Linked DNA regions of Homo sapiens. The protein of the gene in region 1 purifies or fractionates together with the protein of each later gene. This does not show direct contact. Each region holds a gene or a part of one and is shown in the gene's direction. Other genes may lie near its edges.

Region 1 (7,309 bases):
CCTACCGTAGTAGGACGAAATGTCATTCCTAGAATCACAACACCTCACAACCCTGCCCAGGGACAACCGCATCTGAATGGAATGTCAAATATAACTAAGACTGTTACACCTAAGAGATCCCATTCCCCATCCATAGATGGGACTCCTAAGAGGTTGAAAGACGTAGAAAAGGTAAAGTTACAACTTTAGTGGTAATTCAGTAGTTGATATTTTTTATAGTTAATACTAAAGAAACAATTTTCCATAGCTGTTGGTGTTCTGTTAGGAGTTGGCTGAAAAGAATATTTACCCAAATCTTAAAGAAACAATATTAATTGCTCATCCTAAATTGAAATTACTAATACGTCTGAAAATTTGAATGATTGGTCTGAGTTTCTCCTTGATTTACAGAAGTCATTACTGATAACAAAATCTCATTTCTTGTGTGTTGATATGCCCTGCTTCCAGTAGGTGGTGGTAAAACTATATTTGTTAGAATCTGAATTGATTTAACCAAAAAGATCACCCAAACTGTAGAAATTAACGGTGGCAGTTGAATTCAATCTAATTTAAATTATCTTCTCTTACCAATCCATGTTTATAGTAATTTTTATAATAGTGTAACCAATAACTAGTTTTCCAGTTTATATAGATTTATATGGGTTTTTGTAGGTACATAATAGCAATCTATTTCAATGTTTATATTTTAGTTTATTCGACTTGAATCAACATTTAAGGACCCCCGCACTGCTGAAGAAAGAAAAAGAAAATCAGTGGTAAATATATTAATAGTGTGCTTCAGAATATTTATTGTAAAGCGCCATGTATCAGGAAAAGTGCCATATTAGAAAGTAGGTCAGATTAGATTTATTTTCAGGTTTTCGTTAGGTTTTATTTTAAGTAGAAATAAGTGTTTGCATATAGGAAAGTTAGTTTTCACTTGTGTTGATTCTTCTGTTTTTAGGATGCCATTGGAGGAGAATCTATGCCTATTCCAACTATTGATACATCACGCAAAAAGGTAACAAGATAGTCTTGTTCATAGGTACAGTACATAGGTAAAAACTCATAGGTAATCTACAAGTACAAAAGGCTTATTAAGAGCCTAGCACTGGGAAAAAGTAAGATTTTGTCCCTGTCCCCAAGGACTAGCAGTGTAGTTGGGGTTGGAGATAGCAAGTATATAGTTCTGAATGTATGTACCTCAAAAGTCTAAAAAAGAGGCAGTAGTTTAAGACAACTTTATTATCTATTTAGATTATGTTCACCCTTTGTTTTTTATCTTTAAAGAAGCAGTTGGATGCTCAGCACATTAATTTCTTACCAAGCACCTGGAGGTATATCTCTGTTGTGTACTATTGCTTACTGCCAAAACATAGGTTTGATAATTAGGAACCATATGTATTAATATTTTAGAGGAACCAAATGTAGTGGTATATATAGTAAGTACCTTTAAAACATGAGCTAAACGCCCCTAAATTGTAATTTAAATGTTTATTATTTGAAGAATTACTTTTATAACTAAAAATGTGTGTAGTATTAAGTGTGGTATGCTAAAAAGCAAGTACTCAAAAACCAGCCTTGTGTAAATAGAGAAAAACCTTCTCTGAGAGTTTATAATGAACAGAATGGCTTATTTATAATAATGATAAATAATTATAAATATATATGATGATAATTATAAATTATAATTTATAATAAAACAGAATGGCCATTAAATAGTAAAGTGCTTTTCATCAACTGTTACCCTGCCAGGTTCTCCAGGATGTAGTAGCTATTCTAAAGCAAAATAGTATACTCACAGGCTATTAGTTGTAGATTTTGAGCCTTTAACATAAGATTAAGTTACAAAAAATATGAACGTATAATTATGTGTCATGGTGGAAGAAAAAATTTTGAGATGGATATTGAAGTACAAAAGAGTGAAATGACATATCTGGATTTTTTAATATATCCAGTCTAAAGGGAAAGTGGGTACACCAAACAATTGCAGCAAAATTGTAATAATGTCTGAAACTTGGTTTTGGCATTTAAGTCCTTATTGCCCTGGTGTCTACTTCTTTGTATATCTGAAATTGCTCATAATTGTTTTAATGCATATGGATATGATACAGATACTGGCTTAGCCAAGGTAAAACAAGAGGAGAATTAAGCAGTCATCTCTTGACAAGAAACTATCCCCATTACAGAAGTCTAGATTTTGCCTTCCTTTTTTTTTTTTTTTTTTTTTTTTTTGGACATGGAGGCTCGCTCTGTAGCCCAGGTTGGAGTGCAATGGCGCGATCTTTTTGTATTTGTAGTGGCTAATTTTTGTATTTGTAGTGGAAAAGGGTTTCACCATATTGGCCAGGCTGCTCTTGAACTCCTGACCTCAAGTGATTCGCCCGCCTTGGCCTCCCAAAGTTCTGGGATTACAGGCGTGAACCACCATGCCCGGCCCTAGATTTTGCCTTCTTTATGTAATAATCTTTAATGCCCTCAGAATCCCTCAAACCGATGTCCCTGAATTTCATAACCATCAAAGTTATCTAGCCTAAGTACAAAGTTCAGTTTTCCTGAGAACTTAAGTATCTCACAGATTGAGTCAGTGGTCTTCTTCATGAATGTATTACAGAAACAAATTGAGGGACATAACTCTCAGATATTAAATTTTTCTCTACTGCACACACTCATTTTTCACTTCACACCCCAAGAGCTTCCTGTTTAGTCACCATGAACTTCCTTTTTTTTTTCTTTGCTTGACCTTAAGGACTGTGTTCTTTATGCATTTCTTGATCCAGGCATGGCAGTTCCTCTTTTCCTGTACATATTCACACTCCTGCCACTTCTACCCTTTCTCTTATCCCTCTGCTTTTCACCTCTGACTGTAAAAAGAAGTAGCAGTTCCGAAAGCAAGAGTTCCCTATGAACACGGAAGGAAATATTCATTGCATACTTGAGTGTTTAGGAGCTAGAGGGTTTGGGAGAAAAACTCCCCAAGTTTTGTGACTGACTTTCTAGCTGGGCCTTTATAATATATATGATGTGCTTTTCCTTTTTTGTTTCCTCTTTCTTTCTAATAGAGACTACCCAGTAAAGAACTACCAGATTCATCATCTCCAGTTCCAGCAAACAACATCCGTGTCATCAAAAATTCCATTCGACTGACCCTTAATCGGTAAAAGCAGTGCCTCCTCACTTAAGTGAACAAGCAATCATTTAGTGGCATAGATGCAGCCACTTGTTTTTTAAATAGAAGTGGCTGTCATACGTGAAATAAGGTGAAAGTGACAGCCTTCAGTCTAATAACCTTGAAGTGGTTTTTGAACTGTCAAACTTTGACCTGTAGATGCTGTAGCATTCTCTCACTGATTGCTACATACACTTCTCTGAGGATCACCTGCTGTCAAATTGCCATCTACAGTATTACAGCTTTGCATTTGGGGGTTTTACTGCCTTAACTTTCAATGCTTGTTATGGGAACCAGTTCTTAGCCACTTGGACACTGATAACAAGTCCTGAACTCCTTTTTTGTTTTGTTTTTTGTGTTTTTCTTTTTTTGTCTTATGTTGTAATCATTGTATAGAGCTAAAAAAATTGAAAACAAACAAAAAAATTGTCTTGTATTTTCCAAATGTTAATACATTTACTTTAGCATTGAAGCCACTTTGAAACCTGAGATAAATGAATGTGAGGTATCTTTTCTGCTTTCCTCATTTGTGTAGATGTACTGTCTGTTCTGTTGATTTAAATTATTTTTTTCCAGATTGGCACATGAAATATTTAAACTTTTTTGTGTGCCTTTCTGTCCAAATGTTGCATAGTTACCAGGGAAGATTAGTCCAGTGATTACATAAGAGTTGGGCACCATAAATTCTCTATATTTTGCCTCCCATGGAGGCCTTTGAAATGCATCTTTATTAAAAATCAAAATATAACCAGGATACTGAAAGTCAGTATATGAATGGTAAAATTGTTACATATCCTATTTCATGCCATTCTTGTTAGTTGACTGGTATTTTTTACTGAGGAGCAACTCATTCCAGCATCAACAATAAGATAACCTTTAAGTATGGCACACTTGTATTTTTGAGGTGTAAAATTAACTTGGCATGATAATTCCTGATCATTATTTACCCCACAACTTCAAATAGTTTCTTCACGGACTAGGCATGCAGAAATAAGCAGTGGATTTTATTGAAACCTAAAGGCATTTTGAATGACATTGTTACCAACCATTAATTGGCTCAGGACCTTTGTAATTTTTATTTAACTATATGAGTTGTCTTTTTTTACGCTGCTTTTTTCAATGCATTTCTTAATATTTTTTAAGTTTCATGAATGCATGCTCAGTTTATTAAAATCCATAACCATGTAATTCTTGTAATATGTTGATTCAGTGTTTTGTAAATGAAGTCGTATGTATTTTCAGAGTATTTTTGTATGTACTGTAAGATACCATCTTTTCAAAGAGAAACGTTTAAAACCTTTATTGTCTCTCCTTAGTCTAATTTTTTAAATATGGATTATGCTTGAATTACTATATTTAAAATGAAAATGTATAGATTACACAGCCAGGAATGCTAGTATCTACCACCTTCTTTAGATTTCACTCAGCATTTAGTAGGTCCAGTAGGAAAAACCCAAAATGGTACATTGAGTAGTGTGGGGAAGACACCTCGTGTATTATAGGACTCACGGGATGCCATCTAGCAAGTGGAGAAATAGCAGTCCATTTTCTCTTGCAAGCCCTTTACCATTGAGTTGAAATTCTTGAATTGCCAGAGAGCCGTATCCTCCAGGTCCCACTCCTGTTCATTGCCCCTTAGGTCTCCAAAATGTAAATTCTAATGTTTACCTTGTACCATGGAAAACATGAAAAGAGTCTTAGAAGTAAAGAACAACAAGGAAAAAAATGTTTGTTCTATTATTCCCTTTTTATATAGCAGCAAAAGATAAGAATAAAATCACATAACCAAGTTGAAGCTTCCTTGGCAAAGCTGTTGTCTTAGCTGACTCTTTCCCTTTATTCAGATGTTTTGGGATTGTTCTACAAATAGTCTATTTGAGCAAAAATGAATGATTATGAAAGAACCGAAGAATTATCACCTGACTTCAACTTTTGAAAGCTTTAGTAAGGAATTTGATTAAATTTTATATACTGGATGTGTATGCATTTCTGCATTTCATATCTTTTGCTTTTAAATCAGCCTTCAAAGTATCTTTAGGAATTCCTTCTGTATCCATGTTTACCCCATTATGTAAATAGATCTTTGGAGTGACTAGTGGAGTTTTTCTTTAATAAGGAAGCAACAAGTCTAACCTTGTACTATAGGATAGGCATTTATTTTAGATTAAGGAGCCCATTCAACATGTCAATGAGTCAACATTAGAGTCCTCAAAGATAGCATTCTTCAACCTGTTTGGTAACTGAGGAGTTGATAAAATACTTTTGAGATGGTGGGGTTTGTCAGAAATAAAATATTTTCTATCCTGACCAGTAGGTAGAACTTTGAGTACATTTCGTTAACTTGGTGGGAAGCTTCCATTGTACTAGTTCCAAGTAAAAAAGGAGAAAGTATGATCTGGGATTTTGTGTTATGATGAGAGGCACTAAGTACATGTGTTTGTTTTGTTTTGTTTTGTTTTGTTTTGTTTTGTTTGAGACAGAGTTTTGCTCTTGTTGCCCAGGCTGGAGTGCAGTAGCCCAATCTCGGCTCACTGCAACCTTCACCTCCCGAGTTCAAGCTATTCTCTTGCCTCAGCCTCCCAAGTAGCTGGGATTACAGGCACCCACCACCTCGCCCAGCTAATTTTTGTATTTTTAGTACAGACAGCGTTTCACCATGTTGGCCAGGCTGGTCTCGAACTTGTGACCTCAGGTGATCCACCTGCCTCGGCGTCCCAAAGTGCTGGGATTACAGGCGTGAACCACCGCACCCGGCCGTGTTTGTTTTCAAGTGTGAAAAAATACCTAGAAGTATATTTTATGAAGTCAAATAATCTGTTCTTCAGTATATAGACACATGTTCATTTTCACAAGGGCATTACATTTTAATTTGCTCATTTTTCAGTAGCTCTGGAGAATATGTATGAAAGGAAAACAATTACCTGCTAGCTTAAACCTTAGGGACTTAACCAATTCAAGATAGAGGTACATGGCTTAAAACTTTGTAAAACTGGGACAGGAGAATTATTATTTTTTTATTTTTTATTTTTTTATGAAGACAAGAGTTTCACTCTGTCACCCAGTCTGGAGCACAGTGGCATGATCTCACCTCACTGCAACCTCTGCCTCCCGGGTTCAAGTGATTCTCTTGCCTCAGCCTCCCAAGTAGCTGGAATTACAGGCCTGTGCCATGCCCAGCTAATTTTCGTATTTTCAGTAGAAATGGGATTTCACCATGTTGGCCAGGGTGGTCTTGAACTCCTCACCTCAAGTGATCTGGCTGCTTCGGCCACCCTAAGTGCTGGGATTACAGGCATAAGCTACTGTGCCCAGCCAGGAGAATGAATTTTAAAAATCTATGTTAGTGTTTAAAATGAGTGCTTTGTTTTAAAGCAGCAATTTAGTAGCATTATTAAAATGCTTACTTCACTATAGTAGCAATTAGGTAAAGATGGGCAATATCAAAATGGGCTAAACTTATTTTCCACTATGTTCCACACCTTTGAAATAGGAATTCCTAACTTGAGAATCATGAACCCTTAGGGAATCCTTTATAATTGTGTATAAGAAGTTCTAGTTTACATGCATTTTTCTTGGGGAAAGTGCATAGTTTAGATCAGCTTCTCGAAGTGGCAAAAGTATGGGAGTTAGGGTTAGGAACCACCAGGATTGAATAATCCTGGAATATTATATAATTTTCTACTTTTGATTTTGCTGTGGTATATTTCTGAAAATGTGCTGTGGCTCCTAACTAGTAAAATGGGCTGGTGAGGGACTCTGGAATTCTGAATTTCTAAGTTTATAACCTAAAATGAAACTGTAAAGTCCTCGGTATTTAGAAAAATGCTTAATCTCAGATTTACAGATGGCCTCATGATAACTTAGATTCGTTAACAGGGTCAAACTTTAGTTCAACAAATTTCAACCCAATATTATCACAGTACAATAGCTTAGAATGATCATTAGAAATGGTAGAAAATAGAATAAATCATTAAAGATCCCAAAATGTTGAGTTCTGTAGCATGAAAACTCTCTTGCTCCTCCATGTTTGTAGTTCAGGCCAGAACAAACTAAACAGACCAATAAATATAAAAGTGATAGTTTAGGGAAAAAAAAAAACTTTGTATAAATAAAATTGTATGTGTGTTCAAATAACTACCTATTAAATCATCCAAAGCTTAG
Region 2 (3,059 bases), on another chromosome or scaffold:
CATAGATCTTGACTTGACCTCTTCGTAGTTTGCACATTCCTGTCCCAGGGTAATTTTTGTAAGAGGCATTCTAAAATATTTGCTGGGTAGTCTTGATGGAATTTAACTAATCAAAATTTATACTTCGTCATTGTGCTCATAGAGCACATTTGGGGTTCGTTACACTTGCAATGCTTTGTTCATTTTCCTGAATGTACTTTACAGGTTACTTCAACATGAATGGGAAGAAAGCAATGTTCAGATTCTGAAACTTCAAGCCAAGATGTTTACATATAATATCCCAACATGCCTGGCCACCTGGAAAATGTAATGCAACAATCATGTACATGTTTTTATAGCTATTGCTTTTATTTATAAGGTTTGCTCCAGACAGGTAAATCTGAAATGACATCTATATATATATATATATATATATTTTTTTTTTTTTTTTTCCTGGACAGATTGCTATTCTTAATTTAGATTTGTTTTTAGCATTTACTGAGGTTTAATGAGAGTGAGTACTCATTGAATAGCCTCTAAAAGCAAAAAGCGTAGACTTTTAATTTTCTTTGAAGGACAACATTTAGGTGACAGTACTGTTATCAAACAAATCTGCTACAGACATTTTAAGACCACCTCTTGAAATGGTGGTGTGTCACCTGTTGTAGTCTGATTTCTTCTTTCTTTTAAAGGTGTTAGTGCTAGGTATTTTTGACTAGTAATTATGAGGTGTTTTTTTTTTGTTGTTGTTGTTGTTTTTTTTTTCTCCTGTGAACGTTATTTATGTTCAAAACACTGGTCTGCTTTTTTCTTGTAAAGTTGATAAAAATTGTTGAATTTTTCTTTTCACTATAGGTTTTCCTCCTTGGAAGTTTAGCCTGTTAACTTTCAGGAAGTTTTGTACTCAGATTCCCACAGTCAGTATTCTGCCAGTGGTGGTGTTTCATTTTGTTCAAAGATATATAAATTTTTCTTTTCCTTTTTCTATATTTCTTTTTTTTTTTTTTTCTCTTAGAGCCATTGCTGCTGAGATTGTTCTAAAGGGACAAAGAGAGGTAAGCCATGGTTGAATCTCAGATGGGTCACTTTTAAAAAGTTTTTCTGTCTCTTTTGTTGACTTCTCAATTTAAAAGAATTAAAGCACAGAAGTTAACATTTCATGCACACTAAGAACCAAGTGGGGAAACAAAAGTAGTTAACATTTTAAGAGTACCAAATATTCGGAAACTCCAAAACTCAGCATAACCATTTTGTCTCAGATGTTATTGTGAATTACCATTCTTTAAACAGATGGAATTATGAAGGTGTTTTTCATTATATTTTCTGATGGAATTGTGTGTATATCTATCTTACAGGTCCACCGTTTATATCAGAGAGCCTTACAGAAGTTACCTCTTTGTGCATCACTGTGGAAAGATGTAATGCTTTTTATCTTTTATTTTATCTCGATGTTTTCCTGTAAATTTTCTGCATGTGCCATATCCATTGATGTGGTAATGCTCAAACTCTAGCTAAGTCTTACTTCTATGCTTCCCTGTCTTTTACAGCAACTCTTGTTTGAAGCATCAGAAGGAGGTAAAACTGATAACCTGAGAAAACTAGTTTCCAAGTGCCAAGAGATTGGAGTCAGCCTAAATGAGCTCTTAAATTTAAACAGTAACAAAACAGAAAGCAAGAATCACTGAACACTGGGTGCAGTCAGTTCTAAGTCCTTATAATAATTGCCAAAATTATTTGAATGATTCTTCAAGATTAGGCTGATCCCTGGCTAAGGTCTGTGTAAGGCAGACAAGCGTTATTGATCATATCAAGTTCCCTACAATATCCTGTCCTCAAAACCGGAAGCAATGAACATGATCCTCTTCGGTTGGATAAATGAACTTCCTGTTTGGCCTGCTTCTAGGCCCTGCCAGATTCTCATAACATCATATACGTAAGTATAGTTCCTCAAAGTGACTGACATTTATTTTAATTTTGCTTTGTTTTTTTTTATTTTCTCCCCCATTCCTTTATTTTGTGTTATTCCTGACTCACTTGACACTCTCTGATGCCTGAGAGATTCCTGTTTGGGATTTAATATCCAGGGCTGTGTTTACAGTAAAAAAAGCAGGCAGTCCCTTTTAGTTTTTCCTTTTTAAATTTTTTTGAGATTCTTCATTTCAGGATTTAAAACTATAGCAGTCCATCTTAAGGAAAGTGTAACTGCCATGGCCACAAGTCTGCTAGTTGCACTTGAATGCTCTATCAGGGTTGTTTATTACCCTTTCTACGTTCTGGACTCCTTGCCGAGACTGTTTAACTTGAAGATTAAAGAAACTATTGCAAATGCCAGTGCATCAGAACCTAAGAGTGGTCAAATATTATGTGCAATTTTTTTGTAAAGAAATTTTAATTTATAATAAAGTTTAACAGTTTAAAGAACAGTTAATATTTGAACTGCTTTGTATTGAAATACTACTTTGTAGTATTGAAATTGTTTATATACTTTTTTAATATAAGTTAACTTTCTAAAAACTCTTGCTGTCTTTATTCACTTTTCACACTGGTGGGAAAGGGTTGAAGTCGGAGATACGGATATTCACCATAACTTATAGCAATACTTTTTTATCTTGAAACTGCTTTCCCATTAAAAAAAAAAAAATTAATGACTTTTTAATTCATGAGAAGATGGATACTGTTGTGAGGACAGTGAACAGAGAGGTTTGCACTACCATTAAATTCCTTGTTCTCAAATTCTCAGTGTTTAGAAAGTGCCTCCCAACCGTAGTTTGAATGATTTGCCTAGTGACATGCCATCTTATGTTGAATATCAGTGTGATTGAATGCAAAGGAGACCTTGCTTTTTATTTTGTTTTCAGTTTATATTTGGTTGTTTTAACCTTGGCAGGAAAAATGTTAATGACACAACGCACACTGGCACAAATCTGATCTTAGAACTACATGTGCTTGAACTGTTAGAGGCAGAGCAGCAACCCCATGAAATACTAGGAAACTTGTACATGTTTACATTTGTATAATGCTCACTAGAAATAGAACCATATTTTGAGTCCCTATTCTGTACCTACCAGACAGGGCGATTT

What was found.
Region 2: the proteins of PAPOLG (region 1) and ZFC3H1 purify together in Homo sapiens (affinity purification with mass spectrometry; 2 studies listed by BioGRID and IntAct, with this or other methods). This does not show direct contact.

The regions. Positions count from the first base shown.
Region 1 is NC_000002.12:60,794,021-60,801,329, forward strand, and holds part of PAPOLG (poly(A) polymerase gamma), read left to right. Parts: coding exon 1-171; intron 172-689; coding exon 690-755; intron 756-943; coding exon 944-1,000; intron 1,001-3,041; coding exon 3,042-3,140; 3' UTR 3,141-7,309. UniProt on the Homo sapiens protein: Responsible for the post-transcriptional adenylation of the 3'-terminal of mRNA precursors and several small RNAs including signal recognition particle (SRP) RNA, nuclear 7SK RNA, U2 small nuclear RNA, and ribosomal 5S RNA.
Region 2 is NC_000012.12:71,609,033-71,612,091, reverse strand, and holds the end of ZFC3H1 (zinc finger C3H1 domain-containing protein), read left to right. Parts: intron 1-204; coding exon 205-306; intron 307-994; coding exon 995-1,034; intron 1,035-1,334; coding exon 1,335-1,397; intron 1,398-1,526; coding exon 1,527-1,664; 3' UTR 1,665-2,493; downstream 2,494-3,059. UniProt on the Homo sapiens protein: Subunit of the trimeric poly(A) tail exosome targeting (PAXT) complex, a complex that directs a subset of long and polyadenylated poly(A) RNAs for exosomal degradation. The RNA exosome is fundamental for the degradation of RNA in eukaryotic nuclei.